7 linked regions of the Homo sapiens genome follow. The protein of the gene in region 7 purifies or fractionates together with the protein of the main gene of each other region. This does not show direct contact. Each region holds a gene or a part of one and is shown on either strand. Other genes may lie near its edges. The genes, in order: VPS13A, TMEM33, VPS13C, UFD1, PPM1L, TMEM217 and SLC9C1.

The links.
Region 1: the proteins of SLC9C1 (region 7) and VPS13A purify together in Homo sapiens (affinity purification with mass spectrometry; one large-scale study listed by BioGRID and IntAct). This does not show direct contact.
Region 2: the proteins of SLC9C1 (region 7) and TMEM33 purify together in Homo sapiens (affinity purification with mass spectrometry; one large-scale study listed by BioGRID and IntAct). This does not show direct contact.
Region 3: the proteins of SLC9C1 (region 7) and VPS13C purify together in Homo sapiens (affinity purification with mass spectrometry; one large-scale study listed by BioGRID and IntAct). This does not show direct contact.
Region 4: the proteins of SLC9C1 (region 7) and UFD1 purify together in Homo sapiens (affinity purification with mass spectrometry; one large-scale study listed by BioGRID and IntAct). This does not show direct contact.
Region 5: the proteins of SLC9C1 (region 7) and PPM1L purify together in Homo sapiens (affinity purification with mass spectrometry; one large-scale study listed by BioGRID and IntAct). This does not show direct contact.
Region 6: the proteins of SLC9C1 (region 7) and TMEM217 purify together in Homo sapiens (affinity purification with mass spectrometry; one large-scale study listed by BioGRID and IntAct). This does not show direct contact.

What each region holds. Positions count from the first base shown.
Region 1 is NC_000009.12:77,184,034-77,187,533, forward strand, and holds part of VPS13A (intermembrane lipid transfer protein VPS13A), read left to right. Parts: intron 1-3,500. UniProt on the Homo sapiens protein: Mediates the transfer of lipids between membranes at organelle contact sites. Binds phospholipids. Required for the formation or stabilization of ER-mitochondria contact sites which enable transfer of lipids between the ER and mitochondria.
Region 2 is NC_000004.12:41,955,929-41,959,428, reverse strand, and holds part of TMEM33 (transmembrane protein 33), read right to left. Parts: 3' UTR 1-3,500. UniProt on the Homo sapiens protein: Acts as a regulator of the tubular endoplasmic reticulum (ER) network by modulating intracellular calcium homeostasis. Mechanistically, stimulates PKD2 calcium-dependent activity. Suppresses the RTN3/4-induced formation of the ER tubules.
Region 3 is NC_000015.10:61,959,448-61,962,947, reverse strand, and holds part of VPS13C (intermembrane lipid transfer protein VPS13C), read left to right. Parts: intron 1-95; coding exon 96-199; intron 200-409; coding exon 410-577; intron 578-1,054; coding exon 1,055-1,359; intron 1,360-3,352; coding exon 3,353-3,500. UniProt on the Homo sapiens protein: Mediates the transfer of lipids between membranes at organelle contact sites. Necessary for proper mitochondrial function and maintenance of mitochondrial transmembrane potential.
Region 4 is NC_000022.11:19,465,694-19,469,193, forward strand, and holds part of UFD1 (ubiquitin recognition factor in ER-associated degradation protein 1), read right to left. Parts: intron 2,311-3,500; coding exon 2,180-2,310; intron 1-2,179. UniProt on the Homo sapiens protein: Essential component of the ubiquitin-dependent proteolytic pathway which degrades ubiquitin fusion proteins.
Region 5 is NC_000003.12:161,074,231-161,076,816, reverse strand, and holds part of PPM1L (protein phosphatase 1L), read right to left. Parts: 3' UTR 1-2,586. UniProt on the Homo sapiens protein: Acts as a suppressor of the SAPK signaling pathways by associating with and dephosphorylating MAP3K7/TAK1 and MAP3K5, and by attenuating the association between MAP3K7/TAK1 and MAP2K4 or MAP2K6.
Region 6 is NC_000006.12:37,251,645-37,255,144, forward strand, and holds part of TMEM217 (transmembrane protein 217), read right to left. Parts: intron 1-3,500.
Region 7 is NC_000003.12:112,291,417-112,295,620, forward strand, and holds the start of SLC9C1 (solute carrier family 9 member C1), read right to left. Parts: upstream 2,801-4,204; 5' UTR 2,677-2,800; intron 1-2,676. UniProt on the Homo sapiens protein: Sperm-specific solute carrier involved in intracellular pH regulation of spermatozoa. Required for sperm motility and fertility.

The sequences.
Region 1 (3,500 bases), on a different chromosome or scaffold from region 7:
TCATTAGAGTGCAATATTTGCTTAGTTTTTTTCCTTTTGAGGTAAAATTTATGTAGAAGAAAATATACAAATCTTAAGTGTACATTGACTGAGTTTTGACAAATACATACACACATGTAACTCAAACCCAGTCAAGATATAGAACATGACCATCACCCCAGAAAGTCTTTTTCCTGACCTTTCCTAATTTATTCCTACCCTCATCTTCAGAGGCAACAAATACTCTAATTTTTTTCTTTCTGTCATACATACACATCTATTCTGCTTTGCTGAGAGTGTTTTCTTTTCCTTCAAGAATGTTGGAGCCAGGCATGATGGCTCATGCCTGTAATTTTAGCACTTTGGGAAGCTGAGGTGGCCAGATCAGTTGAGGCCAGGAGTTCGAGCCCAGCCTGGCCAACATGGTGAGACCCTGTCTCTACTAAAAATACAAAAATTAGCTGGGTGTGGTGGCGGGCACCTGTAGTCCCAGCTACTTGGGAGGCTGAGACACGAGAATCGCTTGAACATGGGAGGCGGAGGTTGCAGTGAGCCGAGATCGTGCTACTGCACTCCAGCCTAGGTGACAGAGCAAGACTCCGTCTCAAAAAAACAAAAACAAAAGAATGCTGGATTTTGTCAAATGTTTTTTTCTGCATCTATTACTATTATCACAGGATTTTTTTCTTTTTTAATCTGTTGGTGTGATACATTACATTAATTGATCTTTGAATGTTGAACTAGCCTTGCATACCTAGAATAAATCCCATTTGGTCATGACGTGTATGTTTAGCACTCAGTATCTCCAGGGGTTTAGTTCCAAGACCTGTGCAGATACCAAAGTCCACAACAGGGAGGGCATGGAAGCTCCCCACCACCTTACTTTGCTCTGTCCATCTCTTTATCTGTATCCTTTGTAATATCCTTTATGATAAACTGTTAAATATAAGTATTTCCCTGAGTTTTGTGAGTTATCCCAGCAAATTATCAAACCAAATAAAATCAGGTGCGAACCCTGATTTATAGCTGGTCAATCAGAAGCACAGATCACAGCCTGCGACTTGTGACTGACATCTGAAGTGAGGGGCAGTCTTATGGAACTGAGCCCTTACCATGTGGGATATGACATTATCTCTTTTTTTTTTTTTGAGACAGAGTCTCGCTCTGTCGCCAGGCTGGAGTGCGGTGGCGCAATTTTGGCTCACTGCAACCTCCGCCTCCCGGGTTCAAGTGATTCTCCTGCCTCAGCCTCCCGAGTAGCTGGGACTACAGGCGCCTGTCACCACACCAGGCTACTTTTTGTATTTTTAGTAGAGACGGAGTTTCACCATGTTGACCAGGATGGTCTTGATCTCTTGACCTTGTGATCCACCTGCCTTGGCCTCCCAAAGTGCTGGGATTACAGGCGTGAGCTACTGCGCCCGGCTCGATATGACACCCTTTCTAGGTAGATAGTGTCATTATTTAATTGAATTATAGTTAGTGTCTGTTGGAGAATTGTTTAGGGATTGGGGGAAAAACTTCACATATCTGGTTATCTAAGGGTTCTGTGTCGAATATGAGAGTAGAGAGAAAAACCTTTATTTTCCTTTGACAGTGTCTTATCATATTTATAGCTGTTTTCTGTTTTGTTATACTTGTTTCCTTTTTAAACAGTCTTCCCCTCCTCTTTTGCCCTCTCTGGTTTTAATTGATCATGTGATATGATTTAATTTTTTTCTCCTGTCTTAGCATACCAATTATGCTTCTTAAACAATTTATTTAAGTGGTTGTATTACAGTTTGTGCTGTTCACTTAAAACTAGTCCAAGTCCACGTCCAAATAACATTATAGGTCAGGTATAGTGGCTCACGCCTGTAATTCCAGCATTTTGGGGGACTGAGGCTGGCGGATCATTTAAGGTTAAGAGTACGAGACCTGCCTGGTCAACATGGTGAAACCCCATCTCTACTAGAAATACAAAAAATTTGCTGAGCATGGTAATGTGCGCCTGTAGTCTCAGCTACTCAGGAGGCTGAGGTATGAGAATCTCTTGAACTGGGAGGCAGTGAGCCGAGATTGTGCCACTTCACTCTAGCCTGGGCGACAGTGCGAAACTCTGTCTCAAAAAACACAAAAACAAAAATCCCACTATACTACTTCATGGAAAATGGAGGTAGTATATGTAATACTCTATCTTACAATACAGTATACAGATTCCTCCCTTCTGCCCATTGTAACATTGTTGTCATTAATTTCACTTACCTATAAGCTGTAATAATCCAATGCATTGCTGCTATTAGTATTTTAGACATTTTTCTATTAATTTAAGAATAAGGAAGAAAAGACTTAATTTACCTTCATCTCTTAATTCTCTAATGCTCCTGTGAATCTGAGTTTTTGGTTTAAATCATTTTCCTTCTTTCTGAAGAACTCCTTTATTTATTTGTTTTTTTTAATTTTTGAGATGGAGTCCTGCTGTGTTGCCCAGCCTGGAGTGCAGTGGCGCAGTCTCTGCTTACTGCAACCTCTGCCTCCTGGGTTCAAGCGATTCTCCTGCCTCAGCCTCCTAAGTAGCTGGGACTACAGATGCATGCCACCATGCCCAGCTAATTTTTGTATTTTTAGTAGAAATGGGGTTTCACTATGTTGACCAGAATGGTCTTGATCTCTTGACCTAGTAATCTGCCCGCCTCGGCCTCCCAAAGTGCTGGGATTACAGGTGTGACCCACCACACCCGGCCTATCTTAACCATTTTAAGTGTACACTTCATGTCATTAAGTACACTTACATTGTGCAACCATCACCACCATTCATCTCCTGACTTCACCATTATTCATCTCCTGAATTCTTCATCTTGCAAAACTGAACCACTTACCCGTTAAGCAATGACTACCCATTCCACCGTCTTCCCAGACCCCAGTAACCGTTATTCTACTTTTGATGTCTGTAAATTCGAATACTTGAAGTATAAGTGGAATTATACAGTATTTGCCATTTGTTATTGGTTTCTTTTACTTGGCATAATGTCCTCAAGGTGCATCCGTGTTGTAGGAAATGTCAGCATTTCAATAATTTTTCAAGCTAAATAGTATCCCATTGTATGTATATACTGCATTTTGTTTCTCCATTCATCTGTTGATGAATAGTTGGGCAGCTTCCACCTTTTGGCTGTTGTGAATAATGGTGTTATGAATGTGGATATTTTTCTTTGAAGTTCAGTCTGTGCTGTCAGATTTTTGGGTTACATACCCAGAAGCAGAATTACTGGATCATATAGTAATTCCATTATCAATTTTTTTGAGGAATTATCATACTACTTTCTATAGTGACTGCACCATTTTACATTCCTACCAACAGTGTACAAAGGTCACCATTTCTCCACATCCTCACCAACATTTATTTTCTCTTTTTTTGATAGTAGTTATCCTAATGGATATGAGGTGGTATCTTGTAGTTTTCATTTACATTTCTCTAATTAGTAATGTTGAACATCTTTTCATGGGCTTATTGACCATTTGTATATCTTAATTGGAGAAAC
Region 2 (3,500 bases), on a different chromosome or scaffold from region 7:
AATACTGTGCTTTCTTTATCTCTTGTCACATCAACTGACACTGCAGGTCAGATTTCCTACACGCACAAGAGGAGAAAGACTATATAGAGTTAATCCATCACACTTGACTATGTTCCTTCTAAAGAACCCATGTGAACATCACCTTAAAACATAAATATTTCCTAGAATAGTTACTACCAGTAAACCTCCCAAACCTTTAGAAGCTCCTTTGTTCTCCTTAACAGCAGATCCAATCATAACTTTCTACCCTGAATATAAGACTGCTCCTTAAAACAATCTCTGGAAATAACTCCTAGATTTACACGGGTATGCCTTTGGTATACTAAATGTTGAGCTATAATATCATATAGGCTCTGTGGAATTCTCCTAATCCTAGAGAATTCCAATGAGTTAAGGGAAACTAGTTGTCTCAGCCAGGCTTAGTGGCTCACACCTATAATCCCAGCACTCTGGGAGGTCGAGGCGGGCAGATCACTTGAGGCCAGGAGTTCAAGACCAGCCTGACCAACATGGTGAACATGGTGAAATCCTGTCTCTACTAAAAATACAAAAATTAGCTGGGCGTGGTGGTGCACGCCTGTAGTCTCAGCTACTAGGGAGGCTGAGGCATGAGAATCGCTTTAACCCAGGAGGCAGAGGTTGCAGTGAGCCAAGACTGCACCACTGCACTCCAGCCTGGGCAACTGAGTGAGAATCTGTCTCAAAAAAAAAAAAAAAAAAAAAAAAAAGAGCGAGAGAAACTAGTTGTCTCTACAAGCCAAGCATAATTTTCAAATCTAGGTGCCATTCCTCATATAATATCTACAAATTTCAATATGCTTTTATATTACTATCAAAAGTCTAAATTTTAAAAGAGGTTCAACGGGCTATATCTAGTCTACCTACAAAATGATCATGAAAACACTTTAAGTACCATTTTTTACACATCTGAAAATGAAGGAGAAAGGATAATTTTATATTAGTGTGTTTCGGTGATGTAGGCACTTAGCATGAAAAGAAAAAACTGGATAGACCTTGATCTGAATGGTGTCACTCCAAATTGTGGCCTATTTTACTGTTTTCCTAGAAAGCACATATTGACAGGGTACTTCTTTTGAATAATTCAGTATTTTAAAAATGCAAGCCAGGCACAGTGGCTCACGCCTGTAATCCAGCACTTTGGAAGGCCGAGGTGGGGGGATCACGAGGTCAGGAGTTCAAGACCAGCCTGGCCAACATGGTGAAACCTCATCTCTACTAAAAATACAAAAACTAGCTGGGCATGGTGGCGGGCACCTGTAACCCCAGCTACTTGGAGGGCTGAAGGAGAATTGCTTGAATCCGGGAGGCAGAGGTTGCAGTGAGCTGAGATGGCGCCATTGCACTCCAGCCTGGCCAACAAGAGTGAAACTCCGTCTCAAAAACAAACAAGCAAACAAACAAAAAATGCTTAATTTTTTTTTTCAATCTTGAATGATTACATATTTAAAAGGGCCATGGAATTCAGGGACTTAGTTTTATAGCTGACTCAGCACTTTTGGTGGCATTTAACCTTCAAACACATCATGTGAAAATGGGGGGCTACCTGAGGAAAGAGTGCCACCTACTGATTATAAACATAACTGTCCGTGGCTACTTCTTCCTTGAAGTTTTCATTTCAAAGTGTCAAAATTAGTCTAATTTGTGTGACAGCTTTGAGACTGTCAGATTCTAAGGAGATTAAGGAAGGAAGAGGTGGTGGTCAGAATAACCTATGTTAATCAAAATAAACTCCTTAGCATTAGTTAAGGTTCTTTACCTCAATCTCTCAAAATTAATGTTATTCTGAACTAAAACTTAAAAAAAAAAAAAACTAAATCTCTCAGTTCTACTTGTCTTATTACACATATACTCATCTTCTTTTCCAGAAAAAAATAATATTCATGTCCTAAACTTAGAAACCTAACCTGAAGTTTTGATCTGGATTTTTAGGAAGAAGGAAGTATTGATGGTTTCATCATTCTTAGCTCTATAAAAGAACCTATTAATTTTTCATAACTTTTAGCTTAGTATTATAGTTGGCCTTTTCTCTGTAAGGGACATTCTTAAATATTCAAGTCTAATTTTCTTTAAAAAGTTCGCTTGCTTTCTTTCTTCCAGGAGGATCTACCTCTGAACTTCATTCCAAAAAAAAAAAAAAAAACCTAAATACAAATTGCATAATAAATTTCTCTTTAGATTGATATTAGAGTTTAAATTAGTAAGGTACCAACTATACAAAAGGACAGAGAATCCTTGCTAAAATAAAGTAGATTTTGTATAAGGCTTCCATCTATCCAAAAAGGTTTAATATTTAAAAATGCCAGAAGAACAATGGTACTACACCACTTCCAGAAGAATTAGACACACTGGATGTTAAATGAACTTCTTTTAAACCTGTAACTAACAATAAGTTCAATGATGCAGTAAAGAGTTAATTTCTGTTACTACATTCATTCTATATATTGCTATTGTATTTCCTTAATTTTAATTTGATAGGTATACATGTAACACTATAATTTCAAATTCCAAATCAGCCGGTTGTAGATATTCCTATTGCAGAATTTCTAACTATGAGTTCATGCAAACTAAACATCTAGTAATGCTCAAATTGTAAAATTTACTTTTTCGTAAGTTTAAGATTACCTTTTTTTGTATATTAAACCTTCCTTTAAGAAACAAATCTGTTTCAACTTGTCAAACATGAGTATATCAGAAATATTATAATTCTGCTAAAATGACATAAAACCTCAATTTAAAGCACAGAGTGTTATTTTATACTGTAATATTTTTAATGTTAAAATGCTTTTTGTTAAAACCAACATGGATTATTGACCAATTATCTTGACCAACAGTACTTTTCAAAATAAACAGGAAAAACTCAAAACAGAGACACACAGATCTTTAAAAGACAATCATGATTTTAAAAAAATCATGGATCATGGTATAAACAGAGCACACAAAAGGAAAATAAGAAATGAAAAAAAAACTGTTGAAATTCAAATAAGTTTTATACTTCAGTTAGTAGTATTGTTCTGGGCTAATATCTTACTTTAGATAAATGTTCTACAGTTATGTAAAACGTTAACATGAGAGGACCTGAGTAAAGGGTATGCAAAAGAACTCTTCTTGGCAGGGCGCGGTGGCTCACACCTGTAATCCCGGCACTTTGGGAGGCCGAGGCAGGCAGATCACGAGGTCAGGAGATCGAGACCATCCTGGCCAACATGGTGAAACCCTGTCTCTACTAAAAATACTAAAATTTTGTATTTTTACAATACAGCTGGGACTACAGGCGTGGTGGCGTGCACCTGTAGTCCCAGCTACTCGGGAGGCTGAGGCAGGAGAAGCACTTGAACCCAGGAGGCAGAGGCTACAGTGAGCCAGGATTGCGCCACTGCACTCCAGCCTTGGCGACAGAGACAGACTCTGTCTCAAAAAACAAAAACAACAACAAAAAAACTCTCTTGTACATTTCTGACTCTTCTATAAATCTAAAAGAT
Region 3 (3,500 bases), on a different chromosome or scaffold from region 7:
AAAAAAGTCACCCCAAAATAAAATAATGTAATGGAAAGAAAGATCTTATTTATGGTAGGTCTGTAGAAATTATAATAATACACTCTTTTTTTCAGGACTGGATTCCTCCCTTTCTCTCCAGTCAAGAAAGCAGTCACTTTTTGCCCGACTAGAAAATATTATTGTCACAGATGTTGATCCAAAGACAGTTCATAAGAAAGTAGGTGATTGTAAACAGATAGTTAATATTCTTTAATGACTGAATATGAGCTTCTATTGTAAAATGTATTTTATTTTAAAAACATTAATGAAATATATTTCAATAGAAAAATTTTTTTATAAAGATTATAAATGTAAAGCCTTTTGTAAATGAGATTTTATTTTGTCATTACCTTCCCGGATAGAGTACATTCAAGTCTCTGTTTTTCAGGCTGTGTCAATAATGGGAAATGAAGTTTTCCGTTTTAATTTGGATTTGTATCCAGATGCTACTGAGGGGGATTTGTATACTGACATGTCCAAAGTGGATGGTGTGCTGTCTCTGAATGTTGGCTGTATTCAGATTGTCTATCTTCATAAATTCCTTATGTCACTTCTGGTAAAATAATTATTTGTATATTGATTTTTCAACTTTGAAATATTTTAAAAGTGTGATAATTATGATGGCAAATGTTATAAACCTTGGATTTTAGAGTGGGCATTATTTTAATTATATTTATGCGTGAATGTAGAGATCAAAACCCCTATTTAACAGTTGAAAAGTGAATCATTTAATGATTTTTGTCTAGAACAAATTATTTTTGCTACAATATAATGAAGCCAGATTCTTTAGTATAAAAATTATTGGAAAAAAATTTTTCTCTGTTCCTTAACCATATAACATTAGCTCAGTTCAGGCAGCTCATAGTTATAGATGGATTATCCGTAATTTCTTAATACTGCTAGAAAAATAGGGCTCAATGGAAAGTTAAATATTGGAAAAAAAAAGTTACCACATGTATGAAAAGAAGATAGTGTTATTATTGATGTGCCTGTATTCTCTTTGAATTTCTCTTTTTATGCTTTGTGTCCACAGAACTTCCTGAATAATTTCCAGACAGCCAAAGAGTCTCTGAGTGCTGCCACTGCCCAGGCTGCAGAAAGGGCTGCCACAAGTGTGAAAGATCTTGCCCAGAGGAGTTTTCGTGTTTCCATCAATATTGATTTGAAAGCACCGGTTATAGTCATCCCACAGTCTTCTATTTCCACCAATGCAGTAGTGGTAGATCTTGGGTTAATCAGAGTTCATAATCAGTTCAGTCTGGTGTCTGATGAAGACTACTTAAATCCTCCAGTAATTGATAGAATGGATGTGCAGCTAACAAAGCTTACACTTTATAGGTATGCTCTTTCAATAATTATGGATTTAAATATTATATTCATGATTTCCATGAAATTTTATGACTTGAAATTCCTACCCAACACAGTTTATTCAAATAAACTGTTCCATTACACGGAACAGTTTTTTTTATTGTTGTCATTGTTTTGTGTGTGTGTGTGTGTGTGTGTGTGTGTGTGTGTGTGTGTGTGTGTGTTTTGAGTTGGAGTCTTGGTCTGTCACCCAGGATGGAGTGCAGTGGCGTGATCTCGGCTCACTGCAACCTCTGCCTCCTGGGTTCAAGCAATCCTCCTGCCTCAGCCTCCCGAGTAGCTGGGACTATAGACATGTGCTACCATGCCTGGCTAATTTTTTTTGTATTTTTAATAGAAATGGGGTTTCACCATGTTGGCCAGGCTGGTCTCAAACTCCTCACCTCAGGTGATCCACCTGCTTTGGACCCCCAAAGTGCTGGGATTACAGGTGTGAGCCACCGCGCCTGGCCCAGAAGAGTTTTTTATTTTGTGTTTTGAGATGAAGTCTTGCTCTGTCGCCCAGGCTGGAGTGCAATGGTGCAGTCTTGGCTCACTGCAACTTCTGCATCCTGGATTCAAGTGATTCTCCTGCCTCAGCCTCCTGAGTAACTGGGACTATAGGCACGTGCCATCATGCCTGGCTAATTTTTTTGTATTTTTCGTTATAGAGATGGGGTTTCACCATGTTGGCCAGGCTAGTCTCAAACTCCTGATATCAGGTGTTCTGCCCATCTTGGCCTCCCAAAGTGCTGAGATTACAGGCATGAGCCATCGCACCAGGCCACCAGAACAGTTTTTTAATCAACTTTTGTTTTAAAAAATTTCAGACCTACAGAAAAATGGAAAAAAATAGTACTGTGAATGCACCTACATATCCTTCATCTAGATTCACCAGTTGTTTATATTTGCTTTAACCTATCTATAAACATATACATATTATTTAAAACATTTTTTGCTAAATCATTTGAGAATAGACATCTTTAACTTTTTGTCCCTAAATACTTTATCATATGTCTCCTATAAACAAGGACATTCATTCTCTTATATTAACTATGATATAATTCTAGAAATTTAATATCGATGTAATACTATAATCTGAAATTCAGTCAATATTCAGATTTTACCAGTTGTCCCATTATAATAATTCGCATTATAGGAATGTCCATTATAAAAATTTCTCCCTGATTCAGGATCACCCATAGCGTATAATTGTATTCTGTACTATTGAGGAAGATTTCTGTACTGACAGAAATTTATTTTGGAGTAGTTCTTCAGCTTTTCTTTGTCTTTTTATGACTACATGACTACTACTGTAGTTTTGAAGACTACAGTCCGGTTCCACTCACCTCTCAATTTGGTTGTGTCTGAGTGATTCCTCATGGTTTGATTGAACTTACACATTTTTGGCAGGCATGTTGTGTAAATTATTTTGTATCTTCAGTGCTCATACCAGGTGGCACATGAAATCTGTACATAATTCATTTTAAAATTATTTTCTACCCCATCCATGAAGATTTAATTATGTAGAATAAAAAATTAATGACTACAAGGCAAGTCTAGAAAATAATCCTAGAGAAAACCTTTATGAAATGCCTTGGAAAATGCTAACTCCTCTTGTTCACTTTGCCATCATTTTCTTCAGTCTCTGCACCAACATACCTATTAATCCTTGAACAACTGTATATGATGATTTTCTGTATTTCTTCAATGGTGTGGATTGCTTTTAAAAACTTATTCAATTTTTCACCTATCTACTGTTTAAAGAAAAAAGTTTTCTTAATGGTTCATTGTATATCACCTTTTAATTTGTCCCTTCTAGTGGATTATAGATTAATTATAGGTTCAGTTTTGAAAATACTCAAGCCACACTGTTTCAGATCAGTATTTAGAGCAGCAAATAACTGCTTGACTTTGCTTTTTTTTAATATGTTGCATTTCTACCCTATATCTATGCATTATGTAACATTTCTGTTTTTCGTAGGACAGTGATCCAGCCAGGCATCTACCATCCTGATATTCAGCTGTTGCACCCAATTAACTTGGAATTTCTTGTAAATCGGAATCTAGCTGCATCTTGGTACCACAAGGTGCCTGTTGTGGAAATTAAAGGACATCTTGATTCAATGAAT
Region 4 (3,500 bases), on a different chromosome or scaffold from region 7:
GCTGAACTGTGTGCATTTTATTGTATACAAATTATACCATGGGATTTTAAAAAATCCTGTGGGAGTACTAAAGAACAAAAAAGATTTAATGAGTCAGATAGGTCCTCTCAAAAGTTCCTCAAAATCAAAGATGCTTTCATTTATACTTCTGTTGTTTCTATCTTTTGAGCTGATAACTTTAGTTAATAGAAATTAAAATAAAGAAACCAGCAAATACTTTTTATAACAGTAAAACTGTAGAACCCAAATGCCCACACAAGGAAATGTCTATTCATGTGGAATATTTTGCCATGTCTTCCTCATCAATTTGCTGAAGGACTTTACATAAAAAGGTCACATGAAATGTGGCTCCAGAGCCTGCCACTGTGAGTCCAACTTGAGGGTGAAAGGGTGAGGCTATCTAGGTTCACCTCGCTTGGTCAAACAGCTTTCCAGAACCAGAGCAACTTTGTGAAAAGCGCCTTATGTGGTGGATGCTTTCTTTGCTCCCAAATATGAAGTGCCACGGTACGAAGTGCCCTTCCCTCCACTCCTCTAGTGACCCTGCCAGGGCATCTTCTCTGACTTCCACTGCAGCAGCTGGAGGAGCAGAGCCAGAGCCCTCAGGCTGAGAACACGAGGCCTCTGCAGGCAGGGCGGGCTCCCCATATGGCCTCTGCGTACTCTGGCACCTGCTGCAGCACCAGCTTCCCACTTTCTCTGCTCGGTGCCAAGACTGCTTTCATCCAGACCTCAGCCAGACCAGAAAACACCAGGCTCTCAACTGATGGAAGTGACGCCCTTTCTCCACACACTAACAAGTTAATTGTGCTGACAAAACAGCATCTGAGATCAACCTGATAAGTCTGCATTGGGGCAGGGCGCGGTGGCTCATGCACGTAATCCCAGCACTTTGGGAGGCTGAGGCAGGTGGAGCACCTGAGGTCAGGAGTTCGAGACCAGCTTAGGCAACATGGTGAAACTCCGTCTCTACTAAAAATACAAAAATTAGCCGGGTGTGGTGGTGCACACCTGTAATCCCAGCTACTCAGGAGGCTGAGGCAGGAGAATCACTTGAATCTGGGAGGCAGAGTTTGCAGTGAGCTGAGACCGTGCCACTGCACTCCAACCTGAGCAGCAGAGTGAGACTCCGTCTCAAAAAAAAGTCTGCATTGCAACACATGTAAAAACCCTGAGAAAATGGGCATGGCCCATTCCTGGTCACTGACAGCCAAACAAGCATGTCTAGGTCAGAGCTCTGAAGGACAAGTTAACTAGCTCTTCCCATAGGACATCCCCCTGCCTGTGGGACAGGAGGCTCAACAAGGCCATCGTGTCCAGAACATAGGCAGCAAAGAATATACATGGCCCATATGCATCCAGAGCACACCCAGCAGTGCCTTGCTCCTAAGAAAACATGCGGAGAGAGCGCTACTGGGAAAGGAGGCAGCTTTTCTTAACTTCCTATCTGTCTGTGTTGTTTGACTGTTTGTTTTTTTTTTCAAGTATGCATTAAAAAAAAATAAAAAAAAAGAAGTAGAATGGAGTGGCCACTCTTATGCCATGATCGTAACAGGAAAAATCAGGGCCATGGAGCTAGAGATCTTGATTGGTGCACACAGCACCGTCCCGTACCTGCACTGCCTACTTCCTGATGCTGTCAACACATACACCTGGCTTAAGTTCAGAGGTGAACAAAAAGAATCCACTAGAACCTGATACCTTTGCTTTCTGCTTGGTGACATAGAAACTGCAGTCATTGCTACCTATTGGCCTGGAGTGAATCAGCTCTCAGGCTGGCATGCAGTGAGGTTGACGGGCCAGTGCACAGCTGGGCGGAGGTACTAGGGAGCCACAGAAGGGGCTGGAGCTGAAGGCAGATAAGCTGCTCCCTCCTTCCACTGGACATACTGTGCATCCTGGCTTTGTGCCAGGTGACACAGACCAACTGAAAGAAGGGCTTCATTGTGGTCTCCATGAAGTGTCTGGAAAGTGACAGAGGTGGCCCAGACAGCACCCAGTGCACTTGGCCAGGGCCACGCAGATGTGCTAGCTGAACCCCATTATTCTCAAATCACAACTTGAATCACAAATGTGTGATCCCCAAAGCAGGCACAGATTCAATACAGTACATGATGTTTAACAACCGCCAGCACACTCTCCTTTGTCTAGAAGAACTCCGCTTATTTGAAAAAGATACACGGCTTTGGGGTTGGTGATGTCCAGGAAGTCAGGGCTCTGAGGTTGGAATTTGGAGTAGGTGGCCACTTGAAGGTTGACGCTCTCCACCTGGACCAGGCCGCCTTCTTCCAAGAGTAAGTTCTGCATCATCTGAAAGGAAGAAGAGGCTACATGAGACTCCTAGAGATGAAGCAGCCTCCACAACCACTGCTCCCTATACACTGGGCAGGCCCGTCTTACTTGGGTCCTTGGAAGAGGAACCTGAGCCAAGATAAGTAATTCGTGATACTATGTCAGGAAGGAGGGAAAAATCAAGTGATGTGGAAGGAAGAAGGCCAATAAAGGGGTGCTACTGAAGCTGTATAGCTCACAGTGTGAACGCATCTCTGCAGGGCTGCCCGGATTACTCACTAGCTCCAGGCTTCCCAGGGGCAGAGCATTTTCCTGGAATAGTCACTCACTGTACTTCCAAGCTGTCCCACAAGCAAATTATAAGGCCCTGCGTCAAGTAGGGCTGCACCTGAGGTAGGACAAAAGCAGCACAAGGCAAGGCTGACCTGGCAATGGAATGGCCCACCACAGCTGAGGCTGCAAGATGGTGACAGACCCCAGAGGTCTCTGCTAAGGAGGTTATAAAAATCTGACAAAGCCTCCACATGTCTCTATTAAACAACCCAGCCAGGTAGACGACGGCTGAGAAGTGAGACGGAAAGAGATAAACAATGCCCATGAGTACTGGGTGTGCAGGGAGTCCAGACTCAGGTCAGAAGCTCTATGTCTCTTGCAATGAAATTTTGCTTGTCTTATTTGAAACCGTCTTAAAAGGGGTGTCAGACATATACATCAGTAGAAAGAGCCGTAGAAGAGAGCTCCCACGCACCGAGCCCTGACAGTTGGACAGTGCTCACGTCGTGGCTCAGTCCATCGATCAGCACTACCTCACACCCAGTCCCAAGCCACATTAGATGCCCTGAAGCAAATCCCAGGTATCACATCCCTTCAAGAATGTTTCATCGGGAGTGGCAGTGAGAAGGTGACTTTAACAGCCAAGGGAAAAGGGGGCTGAGGGCTGTGTCACAAATGAGAGGGAGCTCATGAGGAGGGAGAGGCATGCTGAGGCCGAGGCTGTGCCTGGGAAGCCGTGCCTAGGCCATGAGTGAAGCCTGAGTGGTGGGCCCTATGGATAGGCTTGCAGAGGACCCCATGCACTCACGCTGACAGCTGCTTGTCAGGCTAGTAAGGGCAGAAATAGAGGGTGGTCACTCTACCAAATGCCACAGGCAGGCACAGAAGGATGCAGAGGTGACTGGCTTTGGTAACGGGGGTCTGGCATCCCCAGG
Region 5 (2,586 bases), about 49 Mb from region 7:
CAGAGTTTACATTGGGGTCTTTTGGAATGAACTGTTTAATTACTATTTTCCAGGTTTGTCAGAATAATCATTTATCTGAACCCACTAAAATTTCTATTTGTCTTTCTCTCTCTTTTTTTTTTTCCTGGCTGCCCATGAGAATGCTGAGACATTATCAAATAGATTTCAATTCTGTGACCTGAACTGCAGTTGTGTAAGTGCTATAAATCAAAATCATTTGCTTTAGTAATTGAAGAGTAAACTGAAAGACAATATTGTAGATGTTAATGTTTCAATGTGAACATGTAATAAATTAAAAAGAACAAACACTGCTTTCTATAATAGAAGCAAAAGTTATGGGTTTTCTCCATGGTCATATTTTATTCATTATTCTACTTTCTGCACACTGTATATGCTTGAGATAAAACAATAACCAAGATGATAAATACATAAAGACTGTTAGTTGTAGTCTGGGAGCCTAAATCAGAGGAGTATTCTTGCTTAATGTCCCATGGTTCTAGCTTTTCTCCACAGAGCAGGATTTAGACGTTTTCATTACTACACGAAGAAGTCATCATTTGTCCTAAGATAGACAAATGGGAATTTAAAAGTTATACAAAAGACATCTTTTTCTTGGGTTAGAGATGTCTAATACATCATTTCTACAGGATTAATTTTTTTAATCATATGAGCAACCTGACCCATTGCATTATATGGATTAGAAAACTCTCTAAGAAGCAAGAATATCAAATCACTCTGTGGTTGGTTTTTGTGAAATTGTCTGTCGTAAATTGAGTACTCACTAGTATTCATGTTGGCATTTGCAAAATTACCACTATGTTAAAACTCGCTCCCAGTTGTACCTGTGACTGTGTTTATCTGACTTCAGTTTTACTGTCCACGATTTGGAACGTGAATGGAATCTGGGACAGTAAAGGTGTTGAGGAGAGCAATAAATGAGATCTCATGTATCCATTTTCATCAGAAAAAAATGGAATAGGGACTGCAATTTTACTAACTTCGCAAATAACTGAGAATGTTCATTTTCTCACTTCAATGTTATCTCCTTCACTAAGAGCGTAAGTACAGAAAGCATAATTCATGATGTAATAAACTATAACACCTCCTTTTCTTAATTTAAAATATTTCCTTTTATATTACTCTCCCTTGATTTGGGCTTCTGTATTTTCTTAAAAATGCTTTCCTTTACATTCTAATTTTGACCACACTGGAAACTGATTTTACAATTTTTTATTAAAAAGTGTTCCAAACCATTTTTCTTAAATGTGATTCTGCCCGTGCCATCAGTCCTACAAAAGGAAGCTTTAAAATTAAAATGCTGTCTTCATTAACAAATAAGCAAAGCATTAACCAATACTCTAAGAGACAAGCCCATTTTTTGAATGGTGAAAAGTGGTAACAACTGCCTTTTCTTCATCTATGTGCAGGTGTCAGAAATTACTATTAAACACAACCTATATATAGTAAAAATCTGATAATCCACATTTCTTATAAGCTACTTTTTACATTTTTAATGTCTGGGTATCCTAAAGGGGTTTTTCCCTGATACTTGACTATTACATCCGCCTTTGCTTCTGCATGAACACGTTTTACATCGTGAATTATCTAATTAATATAGAAATATTTTGAGATAATGCATGATATCATATTTAATTTATGAACTGCCTCATGACAAAAGGTAATGAGAGCTGATACAATCCCTCTCCTGAAGTGGCAGCGAGTAACCCGGGCAGGCTTTGCTCTGGGTCACTCAGCCCTCTCTCCACCACAATCTGCCACCAGTGCCCTTACAGTAATCTGCTTGTGCTCAATGTCCTCGGAGGTTTTTGAGATTAACTTGGATTTGGCAAATGTTAGGTGGGATTTTGTGTTTAAATAATGCAAGGTTATAGGACTTCAAGAATAAATGAAACCACATCTCTAAATACAGTCTATGCCTTTGCTGCATGCTTGCTTTTTGGTGGAGCTTTGAACAGGGAAACTGTCTGTGATGATTTGTTAAAATGAATACTTGCTACATGCTCTCCTCAAAGTCCTTAACTTGGATTTATTAAAGCAGTTGTACGTATGATGCTGTGGTTATTACTAAACACATAAAAATTATCAATAATCAACCCTAGCCTCAACAGTTTGCTGTTCAACAGTGGTAAAAATAACAAATAGACAAAGCATTAACATTACTAAGGATCAGCAAATTTACATATTAGAAAAAATGTTTAGAAATGCATCTATTGGAAGCTTCATGGTATCAACTGCCCCCTGCCCTTTGCAATCCGCCACCTAGCCTAAGAGATCTTACTTTTAGTTTTTTAAAATATTTTGGATAATGTGCAGAGGATGAGCTATTCCTAAATATTGGATGTAATTTTAAGTTAATGACTTTTGCCTTAATTCACTCTGTACCATGTTTTCGACTAGATTTGTTTCATCCATGACTTTGGGGTAATCTCTCATAGCTTCCCAAACCTATTTCTGCAGCCAAGAGTAACTACTGTGGAACTACAGGAAGGCCTCACATTTTAGGCAAGAGATAACATGCCAAACTTAACTATGTACATAAAACATGAAAGGTGGGATGATATGGGA
Region 6 (3,500 bases), on a different chromosome or scaffold from region 7:
AAACTCTAAAACATGCATGGGAATGCTGAACATGTAACTCAGGATCGTGGTTTCCACTGGAGAGACGGAGGGGAATGAGATCAGAGAGGAACAAAATGGAACTTTAATTATATTTTAAGATTTTTTGTTTATTAATCTTTTTCTTATTTGTTCTTTATTATTTATTGCAGGAGATGGCAAATTACCAATGATGGGCCAAATCTGGTATGCTATTTTTATATGACCTAGGAGATAAAAATGGATTTTACATTTTTAATTTTTTTTATGAGATGGAGTTTCACTCTTGTTGCCCAGGCTGGAGTGCAATGGCACAATCTCGGCTCACTGCAACCTCCACCTCCCAGGTTCAAGCAATTCTTCTGCCTCAGCCTCCCGAGTAGCTGGGATTACAGGCATGCGCCACCATGCCCAGCTAATTTTGTAATTTTAATAGAGCCAGGGTTTCTCCATGTTGGTCAGGCCGGTCTCGAACTCCTGACCTCAGGTGATCCGCCTGCCTCGGCCTCCCAAAGTGCTGGGATTACAGGCGTGAGCCACTGCGCCTGGCCTGGATTTTACATTTTTTAATTGTTGAAAAACTTGAAAGAAGAATAATATTCCATGACATGTAACATAAAGTTCAAATTTCAATGTGGATAAAATAAGTTTTATTATTACACAGCCCCGAGAGCTTATTTATTGTCTATGGTTGTTTTCACACTACAATGGCAGAGATGAATAGCTGCAAGAGAGACCATATGGCTGGCAAAGCCTAAAAATATCTACAATCCTGCCTTTGATACAAGAAGTTTGTCAACCCCTGGTTGACATACATACATACATGTATACATACATAACATACATATACATGTATGCATATATATATGCACACACACATGCATATATATGTCAACATGTATATGTTGTGAGGGGTGTGAGGGGTGTGTGTGTGCACGTGTACGTGTATGTGTGTGTGTGTGTGTGTATGTGTGTGTATATATATATATATATATATTTTTTTTTTTTTTTTTTTTTTGACAGGGTCTCACTCTGTCACCCAGGCTGGAGTGCAATGGCACAATCTCGGCTCCCTGCAACCCCCGCCTCCTGGGCTCAAGTGATCCTCCCACCTCAGCCTCTGAGTAGCTGGGACCACAGGTGTGTGCCACCACACTCCACTAATTTTTTGTATTTTTGATAGAGATGGGGTTTTGTCATGTTGCCCAGGCTGGTCTCGAACTCCTGAGCTCAAGTGATCCACCTGCCTCAGCCTCCCAAAGTGCTGGGATTGCAGGTGTGAGCTACTGTTACCCAGGTGATGTATATTTTATAATATTAAAAAACGGTAACATTAAAGAAAAGTTCCAGAAGTACCAAGATGTATATAATTCTACCCTCTACCAAAATTTGCTTAATTTTTCCACGTTTTCTTCCAATCTTTGACAAAACCCATATATTCTTATTGAAATCATGCAAAGATATTTTATATTCTACCTTTTCCCTGCTGTACATTTCATACACCTTTTTGATGTGCTATGTAGCATTCAAATTTGCCCTCTTTAATGGTATAACATGGTTCAAGTTTATAAACTGCACACCATAATTTACATAACTTCTTCTCATGTTTAAATCTTCATATTCTTTTCATTTTCCCCTGTTTATTATTGGTTGCAAGGCAAAGAATATCTTTGTACACAGAGATTTCCCCCTTTCTTCTTGCCAGGTATGGTGACTTCTTTTCTTAGAATAAATTCTTAGGAATGAAATACCTAGTTTTCCCTTCACCCCCCAAATTCTAAAAACTTTCTCTTCCTCTCTTTATTCCTATAACCTCTTACTTTTTCAGTCTTTTTGCTTATCCCCTTGCCTTCTCTAATATAACTGATCTCTGCCATTGGCTCTAACAGTGGTTGTTTAGATACTATAAAGCTCTCTTGCTGTTAAATCCCAGCTTGACCTCACTATCTCTTAGGTGGCCCAACATTGCACAGTGCATTGTGAGGGCTGCTTCTTGCTCTCATTTCTTAACCCTTCCCCTCATCACAGTGTCTACTTCCTTCCTTCCACTCCACTCCTTCACTAAGGTTAAAGTCTGCCAGGGATCTCTCTGTAAGTCCAAAGGCTTTTTTCTCTATTTTTATCTTCCCATTGGAGCTCCTGTCCTGAAGTGACTTTCCTCCTATAGTTCTTCAGGCCTTTCTCTTTCCTTTTCTCTCCCTACTCAAGGATTATCTCTTTCATAAAACTTTCTCTAAGGGTTGGGATATGCCTACCTCTTTTGAGTCCACAGTCAACCCAGGCATATCTCATCCCTTAACTATACTTTGCCACATTTTAAGTTGTTTAACCCTCTTTTGAATGAAGATGAAGTTGAGGGGGGGAAAGTAAAAACTTGCAGAAGCCTCTACTTACAGTTTCAAAATAAACTCTTGAGATAAAGTAAACAATCACAGGCCATACTGTATTAGTAACAGAAGATCTATAAAGTGAGGTCCATGGATCAGCAGCATCAGTGTCACCTGGGAGCTTGTTAGAAATTCTGAGTTGTAGGCTCCACCTCAGACCTCCTGAATCAGAATCTAGGTTTTTAATATAATCCTCAGTGATTCACATGTGCAATATAGTATAGGAAGCACTGGTCTAGTGGACCAGTGAATGTCTGCCAAGAAGGACCTCCATCAGAAGGCCTCTAAGGACCCCTTGGGAACCTCAAACCAATGATTTACACCTCTTGCTGGGCAAGGGTGGCTGCCATACCTATCAGCCCTTTGATGACAGCTACCAACTGATCTCCTGACTAGGTGGGTGGCCTCCCTCCCTCATCATTCCAGGTACAGGCACATTCCTTTGAAGCTGCAAAAGAGTTTGAAGAATACAATCTTTCTCAGAGAAGACTGTTCTTCAACCAAGGATGTAGGCAAGGATGTAGAGTCATTGGTAAAGTGGACACATCCTACTAGGGGTTAGGAAACACTGTTTCTATCATCTTTCCTAACATAAAAATATGTGAACAACATAGAATCGAAAGACAAGAAATATTTATATTCTTCCTTCTTTCACTCAGTAAATATTTACTAAGCACTCACTATGTTCCAAACACTATTCTAGGTGCTGGGGATACAGCAGGGAACAAAACAAAGTCCCAGTCTTAGTGGGGTTCACGATCTCTAGGGCAGTAGTCCCCAACCTTTTTGGCACCTGGGACCAGTTTCAGGGAAGACAACTTTTCCATGAAAATTTTGGGGGAGGGGGGTTAAAGGATGAAACAGTTCCACTTCAAATCACAAGGCATTAGATTCTCATAAGGAGTGCGCAATGCAACCTAGATCCCTTGTATGAGCAGTTCACAATAGGGTTCAAACTCCTGTGAGAATCTGCTGCTGCTGCTGATCTGACAGGAGGCGGAGCTCTGGCAGTAATGATTGCATGCCCACCCGCCACTCACCTCCTGCTGTGCGGCCTGGTTCCTAACAGGCAACAGACAGGGGGCCTTTACTCTAGGGGATGGAGATGGACAACAA
Region 7 (4,204 bases):
CTACAAGAAAAAACAACCAGCCCCATTAAAAAGTAGGCAAAGGACAAGACACTTCTAAAAAGAAGACATACATGCTGCCAACAAGCATATGAAAAAAAAAGCTTAACATCACTGATCATTAGAGAAATGCAAATCAAAACCACAAGGAAGGTACCATTTCACACCAGTCAAAATGGCTCCTATTAAAAAGTCAAAAAATAACAGATGCTGACAAGGTTGTGGAGAAAAAGGAATGCTTATACACTGTTGGTGGGAATGTAAATTAGTTCAACCACTGTGGAAAACAGTGTGGTGATTCCTCAAAGACCTAAAAACAGATCTAACATTTGACCCAGCAATCCCATTACGGGGTATAAACACAAAGAAATGTAAACTGTTCTATCATAAAGACATATGCATGCGTACATTCATTGCAGTACTGTTCACAAAAGCAAAGTCATAGAATCAACCCAAATGCCCATCAATGGTAGACTAGATAAACTAAATGTGGCACATATACACCATGAAATACTATGCAGCCATAAAAAAGAATGAGATCATGTCCTTTGTAGGAACATGGATGGAGCTGGAAGCCACTATTCTTAGCAAACTAATGCAGGAACAGAAAACCAAATACTGCATGTTCTCACTTATAAGTGGAAGCTAAATATTCAGAACACGTGGACACATAGAGGGGAATACACTGGGGCCTACTTGAGGGTAGATGGTGGGAGGAGAGAGAGGATCAGGAAAAATAACTAATGGGTGCCAGGCTTAATAGCTGGGTGATTAAATAATTTGTACAACAAATCTCCATGACATGAATTTACCCATATAACAAACCTGCACATGTATCCCAGAACATGAAAGTTAAATTATAATCACATTAATAATAATAAAATTACCACGAATCCTGTTTACTCTTAAATTCAGAGATATATATGATCAAATTCAACACAATTTATCTCTCTGGCTATGCATATGTGATAAATACCATTTGGCTTCCCCAACCTCTACTCCAAAATCTCATAAGAAATCTCTATTTGAGAATAGATGTCATCTTAAAATAGTTTTAAAAATACTAACATTACTGTAGCTTAATATGTTAAATGTATGGGTAAGGAAATAGCTATGAGAATAAACAGGTTTTCTTTTTTTTGTTTTTTGAGACGGAGTCATGATCTGTCGCCCAGGCTGGAGTGCAGTGGTGCGATCTCGGCTCACTGCAAGCTCTGCCTCCCGGGTTCACACCATTCTCCTGCCTCAGCCTCCCGAGTAGCTGGGACTACAGGCGCCAGCCACCACGCCCGGCTAATTTTTTGTATTTTTAGTAGAGACGGGGTTTCACTGTGTTAGCCAGGATGGTCTCGATCTCCTGACCTTGTGATCTGCCCGCCTCGGCCTCCCAAAGTGCTGGGATTACAGGCGTGAGCCACCACGCCCGGCCACAGGTTTTCAATATAATTAGAACTCTTCATCTTAAGCTGACTTTTGACAGCTTTGTAAAAGTCTGTGAGTCCAAATCCCATTAAAGAAAAAAATATTGGTTTATCACATAGGTCCTCTGCATTAATTTAACAATAAGTTAGTTGACTGAGCACAGTGGCTCACGCCTGTAATCCCAGCACTTTGGGAGGCCTAGGCGGGTGGATCACTTGAGATCAGGAGTTCGAGACTAGCCTGGCCAAAATAGTGAAACTGTCTCTACTAAAAATACAAAAAAAAAAAAAAAAAAATTAGCCAGGTGTGGTGGCACATGCCTGTAATCCCAACTACTTGGGAGGCTGAGACAGGAGAATCAATTGAAGAGGCAGAGATTGCAGTGAGCCTAGATTGTGCCACTGCACTCCAGCTTGGGTGACAGAGTGAGACTCTATTTCAAATATATATATATATATATATCTCTCATGTTAGCTAATATCTCAATTCTCTTTGTGTGTGGAGGAAATTAATGACTGCCCTCTCAAAAATGACATGAATTTGTCCTTGTCAGTCAGCCAGCATTGAGAAATTTTGTCTCATGAACCGTAAGTCACACTAATTTACCATGTTACTGAACATGGAAACAGTCTTCTTCCTTCAGATTGGAACGTTTTGCAAGAATTAGGTGAAGAAAGCATCCTGAAGAGGGCACTGTGGGATCTCAGTAATCTTCACAGCTACAAAGCTCATGCTTAATGGTTTATTTTATATTGATACCAGAGGCTGGATTGTCTCCTTAGTAAACTCTCCTACCACACAACGCAGACATCTTACTGACTCTGAAGGTGGGTGGGCTATTGCCCTCCTAATGCCCCTCCACTCAGAATGAGCCCTTCCTCCAGCTCAAGATCAGCTCCACACACCTGAGGCGATTCCCTGAACCAGTGAGCTTTCCCCTAGGGCTGGACTTTTCAGTTTCAGTAACGCAAAGGGAACACATGCCACTGGATAGTTCACAAAGAGTTGATGTAAAAAGCATAATGGAGGAGGGGAAGCAGCTAAGGGGTAGAAGTTCAAACCGAGAAGCTAGCTGATCTTTGGGAAAGTGTTCCATGGTCTGCCACAAGAAAGGCAGAAGCGCCAAGAGGGAGTGGCTGAATCTCTAGCAGGAAAACAGTGGGAGCCTTTGTTCATCTAGGAGGCGAGACTGAGAGAGAAAGTACCAGTAGGAAAGGTCAACTTCCAGAAAAGGAAACTAGAGACTGGAGAGCTCACCATCCGGAGCCTCAGGAGGAGTATCCCGTGGTGTGCAAGTGAGAAGTGGGGGGCAGCTATTTCGCTCACAGCCAAACAGCCCAGACCAACTGCAACCTCACTGACAGTTACTTGCTCCAAACTCGCCCCTAGTCTGCACCGGTTAGCTTCAGGCCCATCATCTCTTACTTGATTGGCTGATGAAATGCAACGTCATTGCTCCTGTATATCTCAGGCATTTGACGGCTTAAGGCTTTGTTTTATTTTTTAAAAATAAACAAATAAGGGGTGAAAATGAACCTACAGAAATTGCGCCATTGTGTTAATTTAAGACTTTGGGACAGTGGATTTCTGACAAAGAGCTGTTGGACACTGCTTTCCCAGAATTCTAGTAAAAGGAAGTTTCCTGGATAAGATAGTGTGGTAGAGATATGAGGACGCAGGTTGCTGGGTTAGGGAAAAAGTGAATGGATATTGTGGGCATGTAAGAGAATGAAATCAAGATGACAAGGTGAACTTTCACTCTGGGTTATATGTGAGGAAATTTTCAGGAATAATGATATACTCATTTGTTTTTTCTAAACATAATATGTAAAAAATATTTTAATTGAAATTACTTAGTTATTACTATAGAGCCAACTTTTCACATTCCTACTCTCATAAAATATCTTAAAGTTATTTAAAATTGTATTTAATGTTTTGTTCTCTGTGTTTCATCTCTTTCTCCCGACCCACACGTTTATAAGTGAATGGTGGTAAAATTCCCAACTCTTCATTTGGCCTCCTCTGATACTACCCTGATGAAGAAGGCAGGAGGCAACTTGTTTGGCTGGGTTGGAGCAGAAGTCCAGGCTCCCTACATGGTCTCCAACTGAGGCATGGGGTGCATCTTTATGGCCTGGTTGTTATGGAAGTTCCAGCTCCCACAAGGCCTTTTCTGATACTGCTCTGGTTGGGGTGGGGAAACAGGCAGGGTTCTGGCATCTTGTATGGTATGGGTGAAGTTTAAGCTTCCTACTCAGTCTTTGCTGGTATGTGGGTACAGGGAGTGGGTGAACACTTTTCTGTGGTGTTTGGTTAAAGTAGAGCAGTTACTGGTGAAATTTTCTGTCTTGCTGGGCTGCCCCTTTTCTTGGGTCTTTAAAAAATCTATTCTCGGCCAGGTGCAGTGGCTCATGCCTGTAATCCCAGCACTTTGGGAGGCCGAGGCAGGTGGATCACCTGAGGTCAGGAGTTCGAGACCAGCCTGACCAACAAGGTGAAACCCCGTCTCTACTAAAAATACAAAAATTAGCCGGGCATGGTGGCAGGCGCCTATAGTCCTAGCTCCGGGAGGCTAAGAAAGGAGAATCACTTGAACCCGGGAGATGGAGGTTGCAGTGAGCCGAGATTGCGCCACTGCACTCCAGCCTGGGAGACAGGGTGAGACACCGTTTCAAAAAAAAAAAAAAAGGATTCTCATTGTTGGAAATACATGCCACATATCTGTGTGTGGGTTGTGGTTCATGTGTGGATATATATTTAAAAATTAATTAAGTTGCAAAGCTAA